Linked DNA regions of Homo sapiens: region 2 is linked to region 1. A link means that fine-mapping ties the variant in region 1 to the expression of a gene that starts in the linked region. Tissue or cell type: ovary. Region 1 holds a variant in brackets; the other region holds the start of a gene. All regions are shown on one strand. Distances are between the middles of the regions.

The links. PIP is the estimated chance that this variant, and not a neighbour inherited with it, causes the effect.
Region 2: PIWIL1 starts here. The variant in region 1 is the best candidate, but not a certain one, in a credible set for the expression of PIWIL1 in ovary (GTEx, PIP 0.59).

Annotation. Positions count from the first base shown.
Region 1 is chr12:130,959,024-130,967,206 of GRCh38, forward strand. It overlaps ADGRD1 (adhesion G protein-coupled receptor D1), which reads left to right. Exons shown (of 25, transcript NM_198827.5): 3 at 7,440-7,523. Among named protein-coding and RNA genes, the nearest start is that of ADGRD1, 9.2 kb to the left of the region's middle. The variant A/G (reference allele first, on the strand shown) is at 3,601.
Region 2 is chr12:130,333,119-130,341,301 of GRCh38, forward strand. It overlaps PIWIL1 (piwi like RNA-mediated gene silencing 1), which reads left to right and starts at 4,769. Exons shown (of 21, transcript NM_004764.5): 1 at 4,769-5,028. It overlaps LOC101927786 (a long non-coding RNA gene), which reads right to left and starts at 3,122. Exons shown (of 3, transcript XR_242978.5): 1 at 1,791-3,122; 2 at 512-686; 3 at 1-323. RefSeq lists an enhancer at 1,893-2,062.

The DNA of each region.
Region 1 (8,183 bases):
ACACAGACAGAGATTCTTGGAAAACAGCAGCCGAGTGGTCAGTACCGGGACATAGGTTCGCTCAGGTGCTGGGGGAGCCTTAAGGAGGAGTCTCCAGTATAGAGCGAGAGCCTGATCTTCCAAACGCCAGCCTACTTTCCACCACGGCCACACCAAACTGTAGTATTTTGTTAAAGGTTCTCAGAACTATTAAGCATTTCTTGTTTTCTGATTCTGGCACTCAGCACTGTGCCTTATGCATAGGAGACACGCAATAAATATTTGTTGGGCTGGCGCAGTGGCTCATTCCTGGAATCCCAGCACTTTGGGAGCCTGAGCCAGGAGGATCACTTGAGCCCAGGAATTCAAGACCAGCCTGGGCAACATAGTGAGACCCCACCTTTATAAAAAATAAACATTCAGCTGAGCATGGTGGTGCATGCCTCTAGTCCCAGCTACTTGGGAGGCTGAGGTGGGAGGATCACTTGAGTCCAGAAGTTTAAGGCTGCAGTGAACCGTGATCACACCACTGCACTCCAGCCTTGGTGACAGAGTGAGACCCTGTCTCAAAAAATATCTATATATTTATTGACTTGTCTGTGCACAGTCACTGAAGATTTGCTAGTCATCTGGTAAACCGCGTCAATAAAGCTAGCCAACCAGCATGCATTCGGCTCACAGGTGGCTGTTTTGGCTTGTATTACCTGGTTTGCCTGTCTACACTGGCAGAGGTAGCCAGATATTTGCCAGATCTTTACCATGTAGAGAGGTGTTTCATTTTGTAAGTAATTGCCAAACAACTTGAAATCATTTTAAGCCTTTGCATACTCTGTGCTTATCTGTGACCATAGATGGTCATTCTGGAGGCATTATAGAATGTCGTAGTTGAGGGACCGTGGGGACTATTGAGCCACTTCTCACTTTACAGGGAAGCCAGGAGGTAGGTTTGGAGAGGGAAATCCAGGGTCGGCAGAGTCCGGGCCCCTCCCCACATCTGGAAGCTTTTCCAGGGCCTCAGGCGGCCCAATTTCTTGCCTCTGCTCCCCAGGGGACAGCCTTATGAAGCTGTGATGGTTGATTAATCTGAATCCATAAATGGCACTGGCCAATAAATTGCAGGCCATTCTTAAAAAGTTTATAAGCATGCCATTTTATACATGACATTTGTAATGAGGAAAAGAGAACTTAAAACAAACCCAAAGCATGTCATTACCCAGCAGTTTCCTGGTCCTGGGGCACATGGCACAGCTGGCTCCAGCCGTTTCCAGAAGTTTGGGGCGGCTCACTTCACCCGCTCTATTTAGGGGTCTGGGAGGCCAAGCAGATAATTACAGTAATTATCATTCCTTAGATCTCCATCATGCCTTAGAGTTTCTAAAGAACTGTCAGAACTGCTAGGCCATGGCAGAAACTGGATTCTTCATCTTCATAGTATTTATAATAGAATTTTAAAAAAACAATGTTTATATCCGATTGAAGAAATGGAAATTTGGCAAATAGAGATTTTCTAAATACTAGAATTATACAGATAATTATATTCTATGTTTATTGATTTATTTATTTATTTTTGCATTTTATCATTCATTCTACCTGTATAGTTAGTTTTTAAATTGCTAACATTAAAAATTTGGGAGATTTCAAATGCAAAAATCTCTCTCTCACACACACACACACATACACACACACCTCCTGGGCCCCTTGTCTTAGACATGGAGGATACAATGTAAATAGAACATTCAAGGAACAGAGTCTGATATAGGAGACAACACACAAATATACTAACAAAAAAATCCCAAACAATAGTAAATGCCATGAGAAAACCAAATAAGGACCTGAAAGAAAGAGTGGATGGTGGTGGCGACGAAGGGGTGGCATGAGGGGAGGGGTCCTGTGAACTGAGACCTGAATCAGGATGAGCTACACAAAACGTGGGGATCAGCATTCCAGGCAGTGGGAACAGCAGGCAAAGTTATGCAGGAAAAATGAGCTCCATGTGTTGGAGGCCAAGGAGGATGGAGCCACGAAGCCAGCCCGACCATCGGCAGGGGCCGGCATTCCTCTGTGTGATATAGATTCCAGCTGGACCAAGTCAGTGCAACACTGAAGATTATTTCCCTGCAGGAAACCAAGGGATAAAGGTTTCCCTGAACGCACACAAGGAGTAAGTAACAGGGAAGGAAGAAGAATAGGGAAATCTGGAAGAAAAATGGAAAAGGAAAAATTAAAGGTTTTATTAAGTTGTTTTGAGTATTAATACTCTGTCTTTCATCTCTCTCCTATGTCTGTCTCTGACACACGCACACACCAAACTTAATAAAACATTACATATGGATGATAAATTATTTCTGAAGAACTGTGGTGATGTGGGCTGAAAATACCCCTTTTTCTCTCTGCCCTTTCCTCTCTCTCTCTCTCGTTCTTTCTCTTCCTCCCCACCCCTCCTCCATTTTCTCTCTGGCTCTGTCCCCTGCTACTTGTTTTGCAGGCTGGGGTTGTTTTGGAGTCCTCAAATGGGCCATGGTTTTGCTTGGCTGGCTGACCTGCCTAAGAAGACGTTTAGTCTTTAGAAGAGTTTGGTGAAAATCAAGGTGGTTGCAGAGTTAGGTGGTCTCATGCCACCTTCTCAATGGGAAAAATGCCACAGAGTGCCTTTTTCCCGAAAGAATGAGACTTTCTTGCTCTGATGAAACTTGTAGGACTATGAGTTATTTTACTCCTTGAGTTGGAAAAGGAACCTGTGGGCTGAATTCAGCCCATCCCATTAGCACCACACAATGTTTTATTTTAAAAAATTGCTAACATTAAAATTTTGATAGATTTTGCTTTAAAAAAAAATCTGAATTTCTGACTCTGCTTTAAAAAATGAAGACCTGACAATCCTGGGCAAAGCTTCCTGCAGAGCCGCAATGCTTCGTTCGGCATCAGGAGGCACTACTTAATTTAGACAGGGCACAGTTTTCCACGTCGCCTCCGCCTCTCCTGCCCTACGACTGCAGTGGTGCCAGCTGATGGTTTCCAGCATCTGCTCTGATGAGTCTGGCCTGTGCCTTCCAGCTTGTTAACTACCTTGGATGCCATCCCTGGACTCTGTCCAGTCACTTCTCAGGACTCGCCGTCCCCTGCGGGTGTCACAGCTTGCAGCCCCTTCATTGCTTGTTTCCAGTCAGTGTTGCTAGTTGCAAAACATCTGTGGCAACTGAGGTGTTTTACACTTGTCTGAAGTGCAGTGGTGTGGAGAGAAGGCAGTGTTCTGGCCTCAACCCTGCTCTTCTCATCACTGGCCACCTATGAACTCTGGCTGGCTTTGGGGTGAACGAGACACCATCACTTTACTCTGTCAGCCTTTCTGCCAGGACTGATTGTGGCCATTTGTAAATGGAAAGAATGGGAAGGGCTTTATCGTCCACAGGGTTTATTTTATAAAGATGAGGATTCTGAAGACACATCTGTTCTTTGTATAACAGATGTTATTTCCTTTTACAATTTTTTTTCCCAGATGACTTGAATAACAAGTCAATGAGGTTTTGTCCTCTTCAAAATGAATATCCTAGACTTTAGGGGGAAAAAAAGCACAGTGGGAATGAAAATGAATCTTTTTGATTTTTGCATTTCAGATTCTTC[A/G]TATTGCATTACAATAGTAGAACTATCCCCACTGGAAATCAACTGAAGTCAGGCCTTACTTTCTAATGTGCTACTTTATCTAGATAGGGCTATTTTATTTAGAGAGTAACAAGACACTTAAGTTATTGTTTAGATACTTCTCTTTAGCTCATATTACAGAGTTAACTTTGTTCCTGGCTTACATTTTGAGCTTGTGTACATAAAACTGGAGGGACAGATGCAAATTGAAAAGTGGAACCAAGGAACAGGACACGTGTGGATGTTGGGCGCCCTGTGAACAAAAATTCAGATATTACATGGGGTGCGTCAGTTATCTGAAAATGATGGTATGTTCATAACTACCTATGGCACTTCAATTGTGAAAGCAAGCCTTAAAATATTTCTAAAGGAATACAGATTGAAAAATTCAAATAGAGGCCTGGCGCGGTGGCTCACGCCTGTAATCCCAGCACTTTGGGAGGCCGAGGCGGGCGGATCACGAAGTCAGGAGATCGAAACCATGCTGGCTAACACAGTGAAACCCCATCTCTACTACAAATACAAAAAATTAGCCAGGCGTGGTGGCGGGCGCCTGTAGTCCCAGCTACTTGGGAAGCTGAGGCAGGAGAATGGCGTGAACCCGGGAGGCGGAGCTTGCAGTGAGCCGAGATCGCGCCACTGCACTCCAGCCTGGGCGACAGAGCCAGACTCCGTCTCAAAAAAAAAAAAAAAAAAAAAAAGAAAGAAAAATTCAAATTCAAATAGAACAGAAAGATAATGCAATGTAAATCTTCTTCTTACATCTCGCACTCAGCTTTTCGATTTCTTCACTCCCAAAACAGCAGTATTGGTTTCTGCAGTATCTCTCCAGACATCTCTCTCTCTTCTTCTCTCTCCATCCCTGCCCTGAACCAACTATATTTTACACAAATAGCTCATAGTGTACACATTTTTATCATCTTTTTAAAAATTAGACAATATCAATGAAAGAATATGCCATCTAAGTTCATTTATGAACCTTAGTATTCGTCCCAGCTGTATTCCAGTCCAGAGTGTAGATGTGCCATATTTATTTAGCCAGCGCTCTGTAGATGAGCATTTAGGCTGTTCTCAGGTTTCTGATACTATTAAAAAATTCTACAACAAACAAGCCTTGCACAGAGGTCTTTGATCATATGTATGAGTGTATCTCTAGAATAAATTCCTAGAGGTGGAATTACTAGATCAAAGGGAATGTACACTTAAAATTGGGATAGATACTGCCAAATTACCCTTCAGAAGGGGTGTACTGATTTGAACTCCCATCAGAAATGTGGTGGAAGTTGCCAGCTTAGTATAGCTAACTTTTTGCTTGCCAGTCTGATGGGTGAACTCTGATAGGCTCATTGTTGTTTAATATACTTTTTAAACTTATGAGCAAGGTTGGGCATCACTTGATATATTTATACGTAATTTTTATTTCTTTTTCATTGAACTATTTGATTATCTCCTTTGCCTCAATATTCGGTTGGTTCTTTTTAATAGTAGGAGTTGTACTAATATAATACGTTTAATACCTCTAAAAAGAAATCAGTACCCTTCTGTAATATGTATTATATAATACATATTATATAATATGCACAGAAAACTTTGTTTTCTGATTGTGTTTTGTTTTATTTTATTACATGTAAATTTTGATCTATCTGGAAATTGTTCTGGTATAAAGAGTGAGGTTGGGATCTTAATTTTTTCCATGTGGTGAACTGGTTCCAATGTCTTTGTTGAATAATATTTCTCCTCTAATTTAAAAGACCAGCTTTGGGGCCAGGCGCGTTGGCTCACGCCTGTAATCCCAGCATTTTGGGAGGCTGAGGCAGGTGGATCACCTGAGGTCAGGAGTTCGAGACTAGCCCGGCCAACATGGTGAAACCCCGTCTCTACTAAAAATACAAAAATTGCCGGGCATGGTGGTCGGTGCCTGTAATCCCAGCTACTTGGGAGGCTGAGGCAGGAGAATTGCTTGAACCCAGGAGGCGGAGGTTGCAGTGAGCCGAGATCGCGCCATTGCACTCCAGCCTGGGCAACAACAGCGAAGCTCTATCTCAAAAAATAAATAAGTAAATAAAAAATAAAAGACCCTCTTTATCACAAACTGAATTTCCATATGTACTTAGGCATCTTTGTGGATTTTTCTCCCGCTGAACTGTCTATCCGCGTGTAACAATCAGCCATCTTTATTGTAGTTTCATGCTGTGCCTTATCATTGAGTGTGAATCTCCTCTCTTTATCCTCTTCTGTTTCTTCTCCAGATTTTCTTTCTTATTTTTTATATAAACTCCATAATCAGATATGTCCCCCACAAAATTCTCTCAGCATTTTTACAACAAATTTTCTAATACTCATAGATTAAAGTATAGTTTACGACATTGAGTCGGCTTTTCCAAGAATAGGTTGAATCCTTCATGCATTCGAGGGTGCTTTCACATCCCTCAGAATTATTATTTTTTATTTTCTTCATGAAAATCTTGTACAATTCTTATTCTTGTTTTCATAAATATTTTCTTTTTGTTGGCTGCACTTAGGAGAACTCTTCTTTTTTTGTAGCATTATTGTTGGAATACAGAAAAGCAATTGACATTTGTATATTAAATTTGTACAAGCCTCCTTGCTAAATTCTTTTGTTGTTTGTAATAGTGTTTCACTGACGAAATTCTTTTCTTATTTGTAATCGTTTTCCACTTTGGTTATCAGGCATACATCATTTGAAAATAATGATCTTATTATCTCCTCTTTAAAAAGTATTTTTTTTAAAAAAACAAGGACTAACATAGAGACTATTAGTCTGTCCTTTTCTATGATCTAGCAGTCGCTTGGGGCAGTTGATTATTGTTTAGTCATCTGAACCATTATTTCCACTTCTGTGAATGAATCCCAGAGGACTAATCCCCGAGAAGACTAAAATTGTATGCATAAAGCCACTCATGTCAGCGCCACCTGTACGAATAAGGATGGAAGCTATTGATTGTTCATTAACAGAAGAATGGCATAACATGTTATGGGGCAGCCACTCAAGAGACTGTTACCCAAACTCAATTATGAGGGTTAGATAGAAACAAAGAAATAATTCATATAGCATTCAATGAGAAGAGCAGAATAGAAAATAACATACCTGCATAAAGTTATGTTTACTCAAAGTATAAGGATCACGAAGGAAATTTCAAACTGAGTAATGCTTAGTGTGGAGGAAGCATAGAGGGAAAATAGAATGACCAGGATTAAATTGAGAAAGTGAGTATTGCGTCTACAATGAGCTGGCAGTGTGATTTTGTGCAAGACTTTCATTTCCTGTCTTTACAAATAGGCTAAGAATTCAATTTTCTTATAGATTATTGTTAGCATGAAGTGAGGAAGTGCTTGTTAAGGACCTCAGTGTCTGGCATACCATTCATGTTAGTTTTCTCCTCTTTTAAAATGATTTTACCCTTATTTGTTTCTATAGTGTGATTGCATTGATATTAACTCTAAAATAATGGTAAATAACAGCGGGATATGGAACATTCTTATCTTTTCCTGACATGAATGGGCAAGCTTCTAGTGTGTCACCAGTAAATGCAGTGGCTTCTGTTTTCATGCAACAAGAGGCATCTATTCCTATTTACCCTGTTTTGTCCAGTTAAGGAACTATTTACCAACTTCTAATTTAAGAGTTTCTTTTTCTAACCAAGAGTGTGTGTTGAATTTTATTAAATATGCTTTCAGTATCTCCCACAGACATGGGATCCTTTTACTCTTCCCCCATAATGTGTGTGCTAAGCGGTTCTTACCCTCTGGTTCTTTCCTCTCTAATGATGATTTAAAATTTTTATTCTTTTTTCCCCAAGGATTTCAGGTGTTGGCGTCTGCTTCCCATTACTGGCCACTGGAGAATGTGGATGGGATCCATGAACTTCAGGATACAACTGGAGGTAGAGACGCGGGTGCTGAGAGCGGCTGTGGGCGCGGGAATCCCAGGGCCATCAGGAGGCGTGGGTGCTGAGAGTGGCTGGCCTTGAAATCCCAGGGCCATTGGGGGACGTGGGTGCTGAGAGTGACTGTGGGCCGGGGAATCCCAGGGCCATCGGGGAGCAGATGTGGACACAATCTGCTTTGAAGCCACGGTGATAGAGATGAACAAATACTTGTGTAACTTCCCGTAATAGTTATTTCAAAGCTTTTTTTTTTGTAGAGATGGGGTCTTGCTATGTTGCCAGGCTGGTCTCAAGCTCCTGGCCTCAGCAATCCTCTGGCCTTGGCCTCCCAAAGTGCTGGAATTACAGGCGTGAGCCACTGTGCCAGGCCACGAAGCATTTTACTAGAATTTTTATAGAGAGAGCTATTGCGTATTGAATGGGAGAATTTCTGATTCAAAATATGATTAAAATGTGCATTTTCCCCAACAATCTTGAAACAGAAGCTGGCCTGAGGATGCCTCTATGTGCAAGTCAGGCGTCTGTTTTCTACGTTGAATGGACTAGCGTCATCTGCACACTGACCACAGCAGGGGCCTATTGATGAAGCAGATGTCAAAGGTCATGCCAACTAAGACCAACTCACATGTTTGAAGGGCCCCCGTTTCATTCAGCAAA
Region 2 (8,183 bases), 630 kb before region 1:
CCCCAAGTCGGTTGGGGGTGGCAGAAAGGCCACAATGCAGAGGTGCTGACAGTATGGAGGGGCATGTGGGGGGAGAGGCAATGGCCCCAGGGTCTGGCTAGCATTGGAGTAGAGGGCTGTGGATTGAACTCAGTTCACAGATACTCTGAGCAAGCTCGTGACATGCAGATCCCTGGGCTCCACCACCAAGAGATCCGGATACAGCAGGCCTGGGCAGGGCCTGGGAATCTGCATTTCTATCAGGCTTCCAGGCGAGGCCGATGCTGATACATTCCATAGGGTGCACTTGGACACGTGCCCATCTGGTCCAACATGCTCATCGTCTAGCGTGGAAAAAAGAATGCAGAGAGCTTAAGCGAACAGAACAGAACCCACTTCCTGGGGAGCCAAGTCAGGACCCCCTGCCTCCGTCACCCTGCCCACCCCAAAACATCCCCCTTGTGGCCAGACTGTGATATTCAGGATTTGTTCACATTTTGTATATAAGAGAACAGACGAACTTCAGCCTCACCCATTGCTCTTTCCCTCTGGATGAATATTCCTGGATAAACCTCCGGGCATGCTGTCTTGGGTACACTTGCCATTGCCATGCCGTCCCTCTAGTTAGTCCCTCTAGGTCAGGGGTCTCAGGGCCAGGGGAGAGGCTGGGCAGCTCTTCAATTCAGCCCAATCAGAACGACATGAGTCTGAAGGGAGAAGGGAAATGCTCTGAAAAATTACATTGAAGGGATTCATAGGAACTGCCTTAGATCTTGTTTTTCAACTCCATCTCTTCCTTTACAAACAAAATCTGGATCATGGGTTTAAAGGGGCTTTGAGATCCTTGAATGAAAGGAACTAGGTCAAAGCTTGCTCTGAGTATGTGGTTTTCTGCTTTAAAAACTTGGGAAACTGATTGGTTACAGAATATAGTCCAAAGCTCTGGACACAGCATGCAGGGTTCATGATGAGTTTCTTTTCCATCTAGTCCCTGTCACCCCCAGCATAATCTACCCAGATCATATTTTCAGCTTTACATGAAGTAACTTGGGATTTTTCTGTTCTCTGAGTATCTTCCATTGTTTCCCTTCCCTGGGATGCTCCTCTGCCCAACACTAGAGAGCACTGGTGGCCATTCCTAAAAACGCACCGGAAAATGTCCAAGTTTCCTGCTCCCCTTTAAAAACGTTTGAGCTGTCCACCAATGGATGAGTGGATAAACAAAATGTGGTCCGTCCAAACAGCAGAGTAAGATCCAGCCGTAAGGAGGACGGAAGCTCTGACGGGCTACGACGTAGGTGAGCCTTGAGAATACGGCGCTGAGTGAAAGAAGCCAGACACAAACGGCCACCTAGTGTATGACCCCGTTTCTATGAAATGAACAGGAAAGGAGACAGAAAGCAGATTCGTGGTTGCCAGGGTAGTGGGGGGAAGAGGGAGATGGAGAGTGACGGTTTTATTTTGGGATGATGAAAATGTTTTGGAACTAGAGGTGGGGGGTTGCGTAACATTATGAACGCATTAAATATCATGGAATTGTTCACTGTAAAATAGTTAATGTAGTGTTATGTGAATTTCACCTCAATTAAAAAAACAACAACAACAACAACCAAAGCCATCATGTGAGGCCCAGCAAATCTGAGCCCTCATTCTCTCCTGGTAACTGGCTAGGACTAAGCAGCCACTGGCCCTTCAGGTCAGCATCCACGTTCCCAATTGTCACACTCCCTGCTTCCCTTGTTGGGCCATCAGCGGGAGGGCAGAGTGTGTTTTATTCACATCAATGGGAGGACAGAGTGTGTTTTACTCACAGCACTTAACAGGGTGCGTTCGGCAGTCCAGATGCTCACATTTCCTTGCTCGCCAACTTCTAGAACCCGGTCTGTCCCTTCTGCAGCATCATCCCCTACGACTCCCCTGCCTGTGCCTGGCGTTGCTCCCGTGCTGGATGACTTGCAGTTTTCTAAACACCTCACATGTGCTCAGACCAACGTGCTCCGCCATGCCGATCCTCCTGTTCCCTGCAAACCCAAATCAGCCTTCAGGGCTTCAGCAGCGTTGAGTCACGAAGCATCCCTCAGCAACCTCCCGCTGAGCACCCACAGGATTGGTGGCACTCTGCTCACCTTCCCTGGTGGGTACACCCCTCTAGAGGCGGCTCCCGGAAAAAGAATCTGTAACTATTCATTTTTTAACTTCCAGAGTCAGGCACGAAGTTATACCTAGCAACGGATCCCAGAAGGGGTCCTGGTGGTGCTGTCAACATGGAAATTTTAAAGGTCACATTTTTTTTTCCTTGAATTTCTTTTCAAATTTTCGTTGAGTTTTCCTTTTCAAATTTTAGGTGAGCTTCTTGCGACATGATGTTTACACTCTCAGAAGAATGAGGGGTTTTGCCTCTGTCTTGCTATATCACAACTTATGTCTTTAGAAACTATTTCATACTTCACACACCAAGACACTCCAGCGATGTTCTTTAGCAGAGGCAAGTAAGGAGTTTAGCATATAGAGAAAATAAAGCAGAGGGAAAAGTGTTACTTCTATAGTGTAAGGTGCATTCACGGTATTTTTCTCCCGAGTTGAGGCTGTAAACATCTATTTCTTGTTTTATGGCTCCATCTGCTGGCAGGTCTCAGAATGTCTTTCTCATCAACACCTTAAATCCTTGGAAAAGTTATGTTCACATTGTATTCCAAAAGGCACCATTTAGTTTTTACAAAGCGAAAGCCTTTGGAAAGCTATTTTTCTTTCAAACTACTGGCTTCCAACGCCTTTTGGCCTCGCCCCAAATTTATTAGCCTTCTCTGAGCATAAGAATAACTTGATGTTACTTCTTGAAATTCCTTGCACCCGTCCCAGACCTCCTGGAATCAGCGTGATCTGGGAGTCTGTATTATTTGGAAGTTCCCTCAGTGGATGCTTACACTCAGGCTAGTGTGGGAAACGCTGACATCTAACCTGCCCCTTTCATGGCACAGATGAGACGTAGGATTTGGGAAGGTGGCTTGGGGAGCCTTCAGCCCTCTCCAGCCCCCGATTCCCAGGCATGCGCTTTTAAGTATGAATAATAAGCAATATGTAGGCCGGGCTCTGTGGCTTATGCCTGTAATCCCTGCACATTGGGAGGCCAAGATGGGTGGATCACTTGAGCCCAGAAGTTTGAGACCGGCCTGGGCAACATGATGAAACCCTCTTTCTACAAGAAATACAAAAAAATTAGCTGGGTGTATTTCTCGTATTTCTACAAGAAATACAAAAAAATTACTACAGGTGGCACACACCTGTAGTACCAGCTACAGGGGAGGCTGAGGCAGGAGGATCACCTGAGCCCAGGAGGTCGAGGCTGCAGGGAGCCATGATCCCACCATTGCACTCCAGCCTGACAGAGCCAGACCCTGTCTCAAAACAAAACAAAGAACACAAAATTATGTGGGCATGGTGGTGGGTGCCTGTAGTCGCAGCTACTCAGGAGGCTGGGAGACGGAGGTTGCAGTGAGCCAAGATCCTGCCACTGCACTCCAGCCTGGGCGACAGAGTGAGACTCCGTCTCACAAAAAAAAAAAAGGAAAAGCACTATGTTTACCGTATAAATGCAGTTTTAAAACCTGTCTGCAGAGGCGACCCTATTTCTACTACCTCCTACAATCATGTTTATAGTTATGGAACATAACAGGTCAGGCAGTTAGTGAGCCTCAGTCCCACTTCCACCTTGACAAATAAACCTGTTCTATCTTACAATATTTCCGGTTGTTTTGTGGCTGTTGACTTTGCCTCCATGAGGAAATTAACTCCTATGGAGGGCACCTAGCTCGGCGTAGACCCGGTCGCTACCACCTGCGATGCCTTGGAAATGCAGCCGGCGGGGCCCACCTGTGGAGCCTGCAGACCGGAATCTCTGGTCTGTGTCCTAACCAGCCCTGCAGGTGATCCCCCGCAGGTGAAGGCTGAGAACCCCTGCGGTCCACGTTGGCATGCACCCAAGGCACAAGTCATTGAAAGCTAAATTTCCAGGTAACGGCCTCCTGGCACCTTAGACTTGCATTGCAGTTTTATTTTCTTTGGGGTCAAAGTTCAAATCTCTGTGTGCTGAGTGAAAGAGCTTCCGACGTTAAAGGCCAGACCAAGATCGAGTCCACTGCTACAGTAGGGCGCTCGGTGCCCACGTGGGCACCATTTCGAAGTCTATGGAGGGTCTACTTCGTGCGCCGCCGCCCAGTTCCACGAGCTAGTAGGGAACTGGCCCGACCCCGTGTCCGCCTGCAGGGGGCTGGCACTGGGGGAACTGCAGGAGTCAAGCCAGGGAAGGCCGGGGGTCTGGGCGAAGCAGAAGAGGAACAGGGCGGGGCCTGGGTGGGGCTGGCCGGGGCCTGTGGGGAGGGGGCAGGGCACGTGTTGGGTGTCTGGGCGGGGCCAGGCGGGGTCTTGGGGGGACAGGGGCGGAGCCTGTGGGGCGGGGGCGGGGCCTGTGGGGGCCTGGGCGTGGCGTCTAGGCAGGGCCAGGCGGGGTCTTGGCGGGATGGGGGCGGGGCCTATGGGGAGGGGCCAGGGCATGTGCGGGGTGTCTGTCCGGGGCCAGGCGGTGTCTTGGGGGGCCAGGGGCAGGGCCTGTGGGGCGGGGCGGGCCTGGCTTGTTGGGCCTGTGCCGGGTGTCCGGGAGGGGCCAGACGGGGTCTTGGAGGGGCGGGGCCGGGGCCTGTGGGGCGGGGCTCCTCTGGTCCCGCCCCGGCCACATCAGAAACCGCCGTTTGCGGGGCAGCCAATGAGGGCGTGGCGCGCGCCGCTTTCCGCCGTTACTGGGCGTATGGCGTACAGACACGAGGCCGGCGCCCGGGAGGCGGTGTTCATCCGCCCGGGAAAAGAGCGCCTGTTGCTCGCTGCCCGCGTGTCCCTGGCTCTCTCGGGAACCCAGCGCCGAAGGCGAGGTGGGCGCGGGCCGAAGGAGGTCCTGGGAGGTCGGCGGCGCGGAGGGATCTCCGCGGGAGCCGTTGGGGCTGTTGGCCTCGGGCTGAGGTGCAAGGACCAGGACTAGGGCGAGGGCAGCGGTCCAAGGTGCGGGGCCAGGCTGAGGTGCTAGGTGTGCGGGGGCCGGGATGCGGGGGCGGCGGCTGGGGGTCCGGGATGTGGAGGTGAGGCTCGAGGTGCGGGGACCGGGTTGCGGGGGCGAGGTCCCAGGTGCGGGGGATGCAGGAGCCGGGTGCGGGGTCGAGGTCCCAGGTGCGGGAGATGCAGGAGCCGGGTGCGGGGGCGAGGTCCCAGGTGTGGGAGATGCAGGAGCCGGGTGCGGGGGCGAGGTCCCAGGTGCAAGGGATGCAGGAGCCGGGTGCGGGGGCGAGGTCCCAGGTGCGGGAGATGCAGGAGCCGGGTGCGGGGGCGAGGTCCCAGGTGTGGGAGATGCAGGAGCCGGGTGCGGGGGCGAGGTCCCAGGTGCGGGAGATGCAGAAGCCGGGTGCGGGGGCGAGGTCCCAGGTGTGGGAGATGCAGGAGCCGGGTGCGGGGGCGAGGTCCCAGGTGCGGGGGATGCAGGAGCCGGGTGCGGGGGCGAGGTCCCAGGTGTGGGAGATGCAGGAGCCGGGTGCGGGGGCGAGGTCCCAGGTGCGGGGGATGCAGGAGCCGGGTGCGGGGGCGAGGTCCCAGGTTTGGGAGATGCAGGAGCCTGGGGTGCAGGGGCCGGGGTGCGGGGGCGATGTATCAGGTGTGGGGGGTGCGGGGCCGGGGGGAAGCGCTGAGGCCCGACTTGCCGGGGCTGTAGGGCCGGGGTGCGGGGGTGCAGGGGCCGGGGTGCGGGGGCGAGGTCCCAGGTGCAGGGGCCGGGGTGAGAGGCTGAGGCCTGAGTTGCCGGGGGTGCGGGGGCGGAGGTCTCCGCATTGGCGGCCGTGCGTGAGACTGCGGGGACCTGAGAGCTCTGCAGGAGGGCCTTCGGGACCTCCCGCACTACCCACGCGGCCGCGGGGCGCGATCTCTGCGGAGGGCGAGGGCCCCTTCCCGCGTCCGCCGCCGCTGCGCTGCGCCCCCGGGAGCCTTGGGAGCCGGACGTTGGGAAGAGGACGGAACTCCGGAGGACCCCAAGTGAGGCGGCGACCGCGACGGCCGGGCTCTGCGAGGCCCGGGGGTCCTCGCGGGTGCTGGCGGCCCGGCCCTTGGCACCTGTGGAGGGAAAGGGGCGGCGGGGCGGTGGCGTCCTGGGATGGATGCTCTCGCCGTCTTCAGCCCCGGCGGCCTCCAGGGCAAAGCCGGCTGCACCCCTGCGCAGCCTGTTCTCTGAGCGCTTTTCTTTTCGTTTTTAAGTTGTGGCCAGAGAGACCCCGCTCGCATAGAATGTACCGCTCAACGGTTTTTAGGCGTGTGGCGCGGTGGTGGTTCCCACGTGCACGGCGTGGTCCTGAGCTCAGCGCCGGAGGGACGTTAGGTGGAAGCGTCTTTGGCAGAGCTGGTAGCGAATCGGAGAGGTGATTTCCAGCGAGTGTGGTTATTGGAAGCACACACTTGCTTTCTGACTTTAAGAATTCAATATCCAGACTGAGGTGGTTTTGAAACTGGAAGGAGATAAAGCTGAAAACCAGAGTTGTGCTGGGAAACCTGGACGTAGAGCGCTGAGCCCCCCAGGTATTTAGTGACCAGCACAGCGCGCCGCCGTGGGTTTCAGGCCCTGGAGATGATGAGAATCAGCTGGAGGGCTGCTTCCAGTCGGCTTCTAACTCGGGAGGGCTGAGAGCCGCTCCCCACCCCGTAATTTCTGTTCCCAGCCAGTCCAGATGCTGCCCGTCAGGGACCAGGCTTTGAGAACTGACGTGCTGCTTTAGGAATATTTCCTGCTGGAGATGAGAGTTCAGCTTGTCACTGTTTTTTAATCACTGTTTCACACCGTTGTTTGTAAGGTGTCAAGCGACGGACTGGGTGCAAAGGCATCAATTGTGATTCGCAGCCTAGTTGGAGAAGCTATGGAGTGCAGAGATGTGGGGAGGGAGAAAACAGGTTACCATGTAGTAGGGTGACCGTGGTCACGCCGGGGAAACGGCTTTCGGAGAAGGGAGCAAGGGATGGCCTGCGAGCTGGTCCTTAAGCGGTTCACTGGATTCTTGTGGTTTCAGAGGAGGGTGAGGCTTTGTTAGCAGAGGGTGTGCCACGGTGTAGGGTGAGTCACGGAATTGATAGTGATAGGAAGCAAGTTGTGTTTGCTGGAGTCTCAAGCGGATGCTTTCAGATTGATTTGTAGATCAGCAGTCCCCAGTCTTTTTGGCACCAGGGACCGATTTCCTGGAAGACAATTTTTCCACGGACCGGTGAGGGATGGTTTCGGGATGAAACGGTTCCACCTCGGATTATCAGGCATTAGATTCTCATAAGGAGCAGGCAGCCCAGACCCTTGGCACGCCGACTTCACAGTAGGGTTCTCACTCCTAGGAGAATCTAATGCCTCCACTGATCTAACAGGAGGTGAGCTCAGGCTGTCCTGCTCACTCACTGCGGCTCACTTCCTGCTGTGTGGCCTGGTTCCGGTACAGGTCCATGGGGCGTGGGGGTTGGTGGTGGTGGTTGGGGGAGGGGGGGTGGGGGGAGGGGGGTTGGTGGTGGTGGTGGTGGTGCTGCTGCTGCTGCTGGGGACGCTGCCTGTAGATTATCAGTAAGAGACTTTCATGCGCCAGTATGCCCCGTGTGTAAGCCGAGCATGCATACGTAATCATTGTCATGATGCGCACATTATAAAATAAATACAAAGCAGTTTAAAATGAGATTTAAAATTAGTTGTAATATGCTGGCACCTCAGCGGATTATCCTGTGTAAACTCCTTTGGAAATTGCTGATTTAGAGTCATATTGTAAGGGGTCTTATACAATGAATATTTGCTTTAATCCTGTAAAATACAATAGGAAGTCGGAGGTTTTTAAAATTGAAAAATGGCATTAGATTTATCTTTCTGTGAAGATCATGAAGCCAAGAATTTTAGAAGCTGTTAAAACTCAGAGGATGAAAAAGATAATGTGATTTAAGGCAGAGTGATGGTAGATGATGTCATCGCCTGCCCCTATGTAGAACCTTGGATGGTTTCTCATGTGTTGAGTATCCAAGCTGTCTGCAGGACCCTGAGCAGTCTGCTCCCTGCCCACATGAAATCCTCCACTCCCCTTGCCCCTTCTCTTTCCAGTCCCACTGGACGTCTTTTGGTTCTGCATCCAGTTCAAGCACTTATGTGTGGGTTGTTACCG